Linked DNA regions of Homo sapiens: all the other regions are linked to region 3. Evidence: fine-mapped expression QTL. A gene starts in region 3. Each other region holds a variant in brackets. All regions are shown on one strand. Distances are from middle to middle. Region 1 holds the start of NSFL1C (NSFL1 cofactor). Region 2 has its middle 34 kb from the start of NSFL1C. Region 3 holds the start of SIRPB2 (signal regulatory protein beta 2).

The links. PIP is the estimated chance that this variant, and not a neighbour inherited with it, causes the effect.
Region 1: its variant is fine-mapped to the expression of SIRPB2 in whole blood (INTERVAL, PIP above 0.99).
Region 2: its variant is fine-mapped to the expression of SIRPB2 in whole blood (INTERVAL, PIP above 0.99).

What each region holds. Positions count from the first base shown.
Region 1 is chr20:1,465,616-1,468,375 of GRCh38, reverse strand. NSFL1C (NSFL1 cofactor) reads left to right here and starts at 1,527. Exons shown (of 9, transcript NM_016143.5): 1 at 1,527-1,656. The coding sequence starts at 1,552. RefSeq lists a silencer at 1,233-1,502 and an enhancer at 1,797-2,298. The variant G/A (reference allele first, on the strand shown) is at 1,351.
Region 2 is chr20:1,430,980-1,433,739 of GRCh38, reverse strand. No RefSeq gene overlaps it. Among named protein-coding and RNA genes, the nearest start is that of NSFL1C, 34 kb to the left of the region's middle. The variant C/G (reference allele first, on the strand shown) is at 1,547.
Region 3 is chr20:1,489,954-1,492,713 of GRCh38, reverse strand. It overlaps SIRPB2 (signal regulatory protein beta 2), which reads left to right and starts at 1,294. Exons shown (of 5, transcript NM_001122962.2): 1 at 1,294-1,439. The coding sequence starts at 1,355.

The sequences.
Region 1 (2,760 bases), 24 kb after region 3:
CAGTGTTAATAAGACACCGAATTTTCCAGGAAAGCAACTATTGTGTCAATTGAGGGAAGACTGGACTTTGTGCTGTTCATAACCTGATTAAGAGGGGTTTTGACTAAGCCTGGGCACCTTCTCAAGGTCTCCTTGAGAAAGGGACACCTGAACTGAGAGCTGAAGAATGAGCAGGGGCCGACAGAGGAAGAGGAAGGGAAGAGTGTCCCACGGTGGTGTTGGAAATTAAAGCTCGAAGTCTCAAGGAAAACCAGCACTGAAATAAAAGATTTTTCAGCAAAGCCAATTTACTTCTGCAGAAGGGTGCCACTCACACATCTGGTCTTCAGGAAAGCACACCGAACAAAAGAGAGAAGGGGTTTTTATCCCTAATGCGGTTAGTCGCTGCTTCTGTGTCCTGTTCCCATTGGCTGGGGCTGGACTGCGCAATCTAAGCTAATCCCGATTGGCTAGTTCAAATGGAGCAGAAATGTGGGCTACAGTGGTAGGGCAAGCGGTTTCGGCAGGAAGAAGAGTTTCCGCGGGAATGGCAATTGTAGCGAGGGTATCCAAGGGAACAGATGTGAGTTATAGATTAGGACCCGCGGGAAGGTTGTTTACCGTAACTAGGGGTAAGGAGGTACAAAGAACAAGGAAGTTAGGCTTTGAAAATAGAGAACAAAGAACAAGTAAGCTGAACAAGTAAGTTCCTCTTTGGAGAGGCAAGAGGGCAAAGAAGCTGAGGACCCAGAAGACAGGATTGTGCCTAAGAAAGTGGCCTTGGAGCAGAGGCCCAAAGAAAGCGGGGAGAGCGCCTTGCCCATCGGTAAGGGAAAGGTGCTCCAGGCACAGAAGCAGCTAATGCAACGGCCCTGAGGCAAATGCAAGATAACTGGCAAGTTCCAGGAACAGCAAGGAGGGCAAGGCGCCTGGAGCAGAGGAAGCTAGCGGATCCCTTGATGAGAGGGAGGAACTGGCCCATCTCTCATGGGTCCTGCAGGCAGGCCATGAGACTGTCTTTTATGCGGGGCGAGATAACGAGGCATGGACGTGTTGTGAGCGGAGGCCTAGCCTGTTCAAGGTCTGAATTTTTACCCCTAGAATGTAAGAAGCATGGGAGCAGGGACTTTGTTTTGCTCCCTGCCATATCCACAGCCCTAGAAAAACGTCGGGCCATTGATAGCTCTCAGTAAATGCTTGACAAGTAAGTGAATGAACGAATGCACAATTAATGAAATGAGGGCTGCGTCAATGAATAACTGGGAATCTGACTCCTGCAGGGAGCCTTCAGCCCACAGGTGTATGTAAGACCCGCCCCGCCTCTCATCCTTCGGGCTCCCACCCCCGCCGTTAGGCTGCGGTTCGCGCCGC[G/A]GTCGCCAGAGGGCGCGGAGCGGCGGGGCTTCCCGCACGGAGGGCTTTGCGTGAGGCACCGCGTGGGGCGGGGCTGCGGGCGGGCTCCCAGCTGCTGGGCCCTCATCGGCTGGGCCTCGTCGACCGGCAAGCGGAACGCGGCAGCGGGGCTGGGCCTGTGCGGCGGCCGCCGGAGCGCTTTGGAAGGCGCACGGGGCGAAGATGGCGGCGGAGCGACAGGAGGCGCTGAGGGAGTTCGTGGCGGTGACGGGCGCCGAGGAGGACCGGGCCCGCTTCTTTCTCGAGTCGGCCGGCTGGGACTTGCAGGTAGCGCCGCGCGGCGGGCTGTGTCGGGTGGGCCGGGGACTGCTGGGAGCGGGCGCCTGGTGCCTTAAGCCCGCGGCGGCCGAAGCGCACAGTCATCCCCGCTCTACCGCGGCCCGACCCAGGCCTCATGGTCCCGGGACCGCTTGTCACGCGTCGCCTGCTCGGCTTGGGAGTGGGGGAACGCGGGCCAGCCCCAGCCAGTTCTGCCGTGCCAGTTTCACCCTGCCTCGCCCGCTTGCGGCGTCAGCGAGACTTCGGGCGCTGCGGCAGCCGGCGAGGAGAGGGAGCGCCTGGGGGCGTGGCTGCCGCGCCGAGTATCTGCTGGAGGCCGGGCTGGTCCGAGTGAGCAGCTCTTGGGTGAAGCCCCACTCGGGACTAGGTGGCCGCTCATTTCCACTTCCGAAGTCCAGCCCGGGAGTTGACCGCCGCCCAGCCTTCCTAATTGCTGGGAGAATACCTCTGGGGTGGTGGCGCAAGGTTGGAGCTTCTTCACCTTGCGTAGTTAACTTATCTGTAAAATGGGAGTCTCGTGGAAATTGCTGTGTAGTTCATTGGCACGTACTGAGTATTCACTAAATACTTGCTAAGAAGACTTAAGCTTCACGAGGCAGGGATTTTTGTACACTGATGAATTCCCAGTGCCTGGAACAATGCCTGGCACATAATAAGCATTCGGTAATTAACTGTAGAAAGAATTGCATAAATATTCTTGGCCAGCTTCGTCTTAGGTAGATGATGACGGTGATGACTAATATTTATTGAGTACCTACCATGAGCCAAGCGCTGTTCTGACTGCTTTACATGTCTTTTGTCATTTAACCTTCGCATTTTGCAGCTGAGATTAAAGAGGTTAAGTAACTTGCTCAAGGCCTCACTAGCTACCAGGCAGAAGAGGTAGAAGTGGAACCCAGTTCTGTCTGATTGCAAGCAGACAGAGCCCAAGCTTTAAACCACCATGTGCCAAGCACTTTACATAATATGATTCGTTGGATCCTAGCAACACTATGAGGTAAAGACTAGACCCATTTTATGGATGAGGAATTGGAAGCACAGAGGGCAAAGAATTTGCTCAGGGTCACATAGCCAGTAAGTAGCGGGGTTGGA
Region 2 (2,760 bases), 59 kb after region 3:
ATATGAGATTTTTGGGTGCTACTTAGCTTCACCAACACTTGGTATTGTCAGCATTTTTATTTTAGTCATTTTAATAGGTGTGTAGTTATCTCTTGTCATGGTTTTGACATTAGCATGTCTTGTGATGCTAATGATGCTGAACATCTTTTCATATGCCATTTGCCACCCATAAATCCTTTTTGATAAAGCATTTTTAAGAGTCCTTGCCGGCCAGGCATGGTGGCTCATGCCTGTAATCCCAGCACTTTGGGAAGCTGAGGTGGGCAGATCACAAGGTCAGGAGATCGAGACCATCCTGGCTAACATGGTGAAAACCCGTCTCTACTAAAAATACAAAAAATTAGCCGGGCGTGGTGGCGGGTGCCTGTAGTCCCAGCTACTTGGAGGGCTGAGGCAGGAGAATGGCGTGAACCCAGGAGGCGGAGCTTGCAGTGAGGCGAGATGGTGCCACTGCACTCCAGCCTAGGTGAGAGTGCAAGACTCCGTCTCCAAAAAAAAAAAAAAAAAGAGTCCTTGCCTTTTTGTTTATTGGATTATTTGTTTTCTTACTGTTGGATTTTGAGAATTCTTTACAAATTGTGATTACAAAAATATAAATGCAGAATATCTATGAGTCCACCGTTACCTTGATATCAAAGGTATGATTCTATGAGTCCACCGTTACCTTGATATCAAAGGCAGACAAAACGACTGTCCGGTATATCTTATGAATATAGACTCAAAAAATCCTCAACAAAATAGCAAACCAAATCCAGTAGCACATTCAAAGGATTATAGATCATGACCAAGTGGGATTTCTCCCAGAAATGCAAGGGTGGCTCAACATAAGAAAAAAAAAAATCCATCAATGTAACACAACTCTGTAAAGAGGGAAATGATATCACAATAGATACATTAAATGCATGCAACAAAATTCAACACTTCAAACACTTTCAGGATACAAACACTCACCAACAAATCAGAATACAGAGAACTTCCTTAACATGATAAAGGTCACTTACACAAAACCCACAACTCACATTATACTCAATGGTAAAAGAGCAGAAGCTTCCCCACTGAGCAGGAACAAGACAAGAATGCCCATTTTTACCACTACTATTAAATATTGTACTGGAAGTCCTAGCCAGAGCAGTTAGGCAAGAAAAAGCAATAAACAGCCTCCAAACTGGAAAGGAAGCAGTAAAGTTATCTCTATTTGAAGATGAAATAATTCTATGTATAGAAAATATAACAATACCAAAATGCACACAACTACTAGAGCCAATAAACAAATTCAACATAGTTGCAGATTGCAAGATCAGTGCACGAAAGTCCATTTTCTATGCATCAGCAATGAACAGTCTGAAAATGAAATTAAGTAACAATTCCATTTATAACAGCATCCAAAAGAGTAAAATACTTAAACCAAGGAGAAAGACTTCTATGCTGAAAACTACAAAACATTGCTGAAAGAAATTAAAGAAGACCTAAATAAATGGAAGACAACACATGTTGATGTATTGGAATATTAATTGCAAATGATCCACAGATTCAATGCAACCCCTAT[C/G]AAAATTCCAATGGCATTTCCTAAGGAAATAGAAAAACTAATCCTCAAATTTATGTGGAACTGGAATGAACCCCAAGTAGTCAAAATACTATTGAAAAAGAAACACACCAAAAAAGAAAGAAAAAGAAACACAAAGTTTCAGGGCTCATGCTTCCAGATTTCCAAACATGCTCCAAACTTCTATAATCAAACCAGTGTGGTACTGACATAAGGACAGACATATACACCAGTGGAATATAATTGACAGCCTAGAAATAAATATCTATGGCTAATTGATTTTCAATAAGTGTTCAGCACAACTCAATGGGGAAAGAATAGTCTCTTCAACAAACAGTGCCGGGGCAACTGCATAATCACAGGCAAAAGAATGAAGCTGGACCCGTACCTCACTCCATACACAAAAATTAACTCAAAATGGATCAATGACCCAAATACAAGAGGAAAACATAGGGGTAAACTATTTAGAGAAAAACATAGGAGTAAATATTTATAACCTCAGACTTGGCAATGGATTCTTAGATTTGACACCAAAAGCATGAGCAACAAAAGGAAGAAATGGATAAATTAGACTTCATAAAAAGTAAAACCATTTGCACAATAAAATATATTATCTAGAAAGTAGAAACACAGCCCACAAAATGAGAGAAAGTATTTGCAAATAATGGACTTGTATCCAGAATATATAAAGAACACTTAAAACTCAACCACAAAAAAAAAAAAAAAAATTAAGAAATAGGCAAAGAACCTGAATAGACATATCTCCAGAGAAGACATACAAATGGCCAATAAGCACATGAAAGCATGTTCAGCATCATTTGTTACTAAAGAAATGCAAATGAAAACCACAGTGGGATACCACTTAACACCTGCAAGAGATAAACCACTTCACACCCGCTAGGATAACTATAATCAAAAACATGGAAAATAGCAAATGTTGATAAGGATATGGAGAAATAGAAACTTGTACACTGGGATCACACAATAGAGAACACTGTAGTAACATTTTGGTCTGCTCACAAGACCCAGAACATTTACCAGTTTTTGTTGTTGGTTTATTATTTTTCTGTTAAAAAAAATTGTGAAAAGTTTGTTTTAGCTGGATGATATTTTAATAGTTGCCAGTGCTTTGGAACTATGTAGATGTCACTACTTAACACATATACCTTATGTTTTGTTTTATTTTGTTTTACACTCAGTATAAATCAGGAACATTT
Region 3 (2,760 bases):
GTGGCCCTTTCAAAGAAGTTTCACTATATAGATCTCATTGACAGGAGAACAAGTAGAGGGAGTAATGGAATTGAGCAGGGGTATCAATGCAAGGCCTCAAAAGTCTAGAAAAGACCAGTCACAGACCCAGTGCAAAGTCCTTGGGGACCAGGCCAGACTAACCTCCTCATAGTAGACACCAGACCTCTGGGACCCAGGGGACATACTCAGATCCAAGGCCTGCCACCCTGTTGCTGGAGAATCTTCAGCTTCCTCTGCACCCAGAACCTTCTGAAGCATGAGGGAGGAAGTGAAATAATGAAAGGCTGAGTTGTTCTTGTACTTTTCCCTGAGTTAATTAAAAGACTGAGTTAACCTAAAAGACAATGGTGAAAGCCTATAGAGTGCTTACTCCACCCCACACATGCTACCACATTTTTATTCCTGTTTTACAGATGAGGAAACCGAGGCATAAAGTGGTCAAATGATTGTCCTAAGGTCACACAGCCAGACTGAGTAAAGCCAAGATTTGAACCCAGACAGTGTGGCTAAAGAGATTGCCTGGATTGCATGAATTGGCAAGATTAAGCTTTTCCTTCTTGATAGCCAGCACCAGGAGGCTCCTGAGGAAGTTCAGATCACTTACAGGAAACAAAGATGCCACAAACGCAAATGTTTGCACAATCTGAGTATGTTTCACTTGGACCCCAGGAAACAGAGGCTGAGAGAGTTACACATGATTATACTTTTAGGAATTAGGCCTGTACCCTCCCTGCAGTGCTAAAAGGAGGCCCCCATGGGGCTTGCTTTATAATAAATCCTTCTTCTTAAGCAATGTCACCTCCTCTACTTTCTGCACATCATGAATAATAATGGTTAATATGTTTAGCATTTACATTGTTCTGTGCCCTCACATTATTTCTCATAATCTTACCAAAACTGTTCTGAGGAGGGAACTGCCGTTGTTCCTACGCTGCAGATGAAGAAACAAAAGGCTCAGAAATGGGAAGTGACTTTGAAATCTTGCACAGCCAAGAAGAGGAAGATCCAATGTTTGCTCCAAATTCCACCCGATTCTGGAGTGCGTCCTATGACCTCAGTGCCCACCTCCCTCCCGGGCACCTAGGATGGAGCCTATGGCAAGGTTTTAGCACAGTGACTACAGGAATCACAGCCCAGACACAAAAGCAGGAAACCCTTTGACCGGGCTCCTTCCTATTGCACCAACAGCCTTGTGTTGCTGCAATGAAAACACTTCCCCAAGCAGCTGTGGCCAAGAGACGCAGAAACTGCCTTGTCCACGGGCCCCGCCTCAGACTCCAACACTCACAAGAGAGCAGAGGAGCCCCAAGTCTTGGGGACCACAGAAGATGCCATGTGCTCCACGATGTCGGCCCCCACCTGCCTGGCCCACTTGCCTCCCTGCTTCCTGCTGCTGGCACTGGTCCTTGTCCCCTCAGGTAAGTGGGGTCTAGGATAGAACAGGGTCCACCCCCGGCTGGTCAGTCCCTAGAGGGGCACTAAGTGCTCTGCCATGCCTGAAGAAGCTTGACCCCATGAAGATAGAGTAAAGAGGGGTCCACTGAAAATTTGCCTGACTCCGGCAGAGGGCACCCCCAGTGTCCCAAGAAGCAGCGTAGTGAAGTGATAAGCTCCCAGGCTCTGCGCTCACACCCACTGGCTTCCAGCTTGATTGCTCCTATGCCCACGTCAGATGCTGCAGCTCTTTTAGCCCCAGGAGCCTCTTCTACAAAACAGGGACGCTCATGGGACCTTTCTCTAGGGCTACTGTGAGTATTAAATAGAAAAGTGGTGAGGCTCAGCCCTGGGCCGGCTGCATAGTTTATGAGACCCACTGCAAAATGAAAACTGCGGTCTTTTGTTCAAAAAGTATTGAGCAACACAGCAGAGCAGTAAACCAAGCATGGGCTCCTTCTAAGCACAGGGCCCTGTGCGACTACATAGATGGCACAGCCATGAACCAGCCCTGGCTCAGCTTAAGACGCAGTAGGCTCAAACCTCACCACTAACCAGTTTAAGTAATTTCTTTCTGAGCCTCAGTTTTTCCAACTGTAAAATGGAGCTAAAAATAGGACCCACCTTGGGACTTTCTTAGGAGAATTTAACAAGATAATACCCATAAGTGCCTGGCATAACAAAGATTTGATAACTCTTGGCGATTATTATTATCATTCCCATGTTTCCTCTAACTCAGGGGCAGGCCAGGTTAGCTCCAGAGTCTTGAGACCCCTGAATATATAGCTCAGCCTCTGAGTCCAGAACTCTCTGATCTACCAGGCAGGGATACTTGGCTCTCAGTGGGCTCATTCCATCTCCTGCCCATCTGGGCCTCTGCTCCAGGCTCTACTGAGATCTAGATTCTGTCCATGACATCTTTGGTCCTCCGGGGTGGCCATCCCCAGGAGAGATCCTGGCAGAACCCAGGTGTGGGGTCGGACCTAGGTGCTCCCTTACTCATTGGCCGTATGACTCAAGACACCACTTCAATTCTCTAAGCTGATTTCCTCAATTCTAAGATGTGAATCATAATTGCTAGGTCTCATTCCACAGGTACTTTTGAGTGTCTGCTATGTTTTAGGCACTAGACTAGGAAATCAGAAATCTAAACTACTCAGAATAAAAAATATTCCCAATGATTGTTGCAATAGAATAGATGGAAAATAAGAGAAGTTGCTTAAACCAGTCAGTTGGAATGTTTGAGTCCAGCTGCATCTCAAGCTGAGTCAGGGCTGGTTCTTGGGTGTGCCCTCTATATAGTGG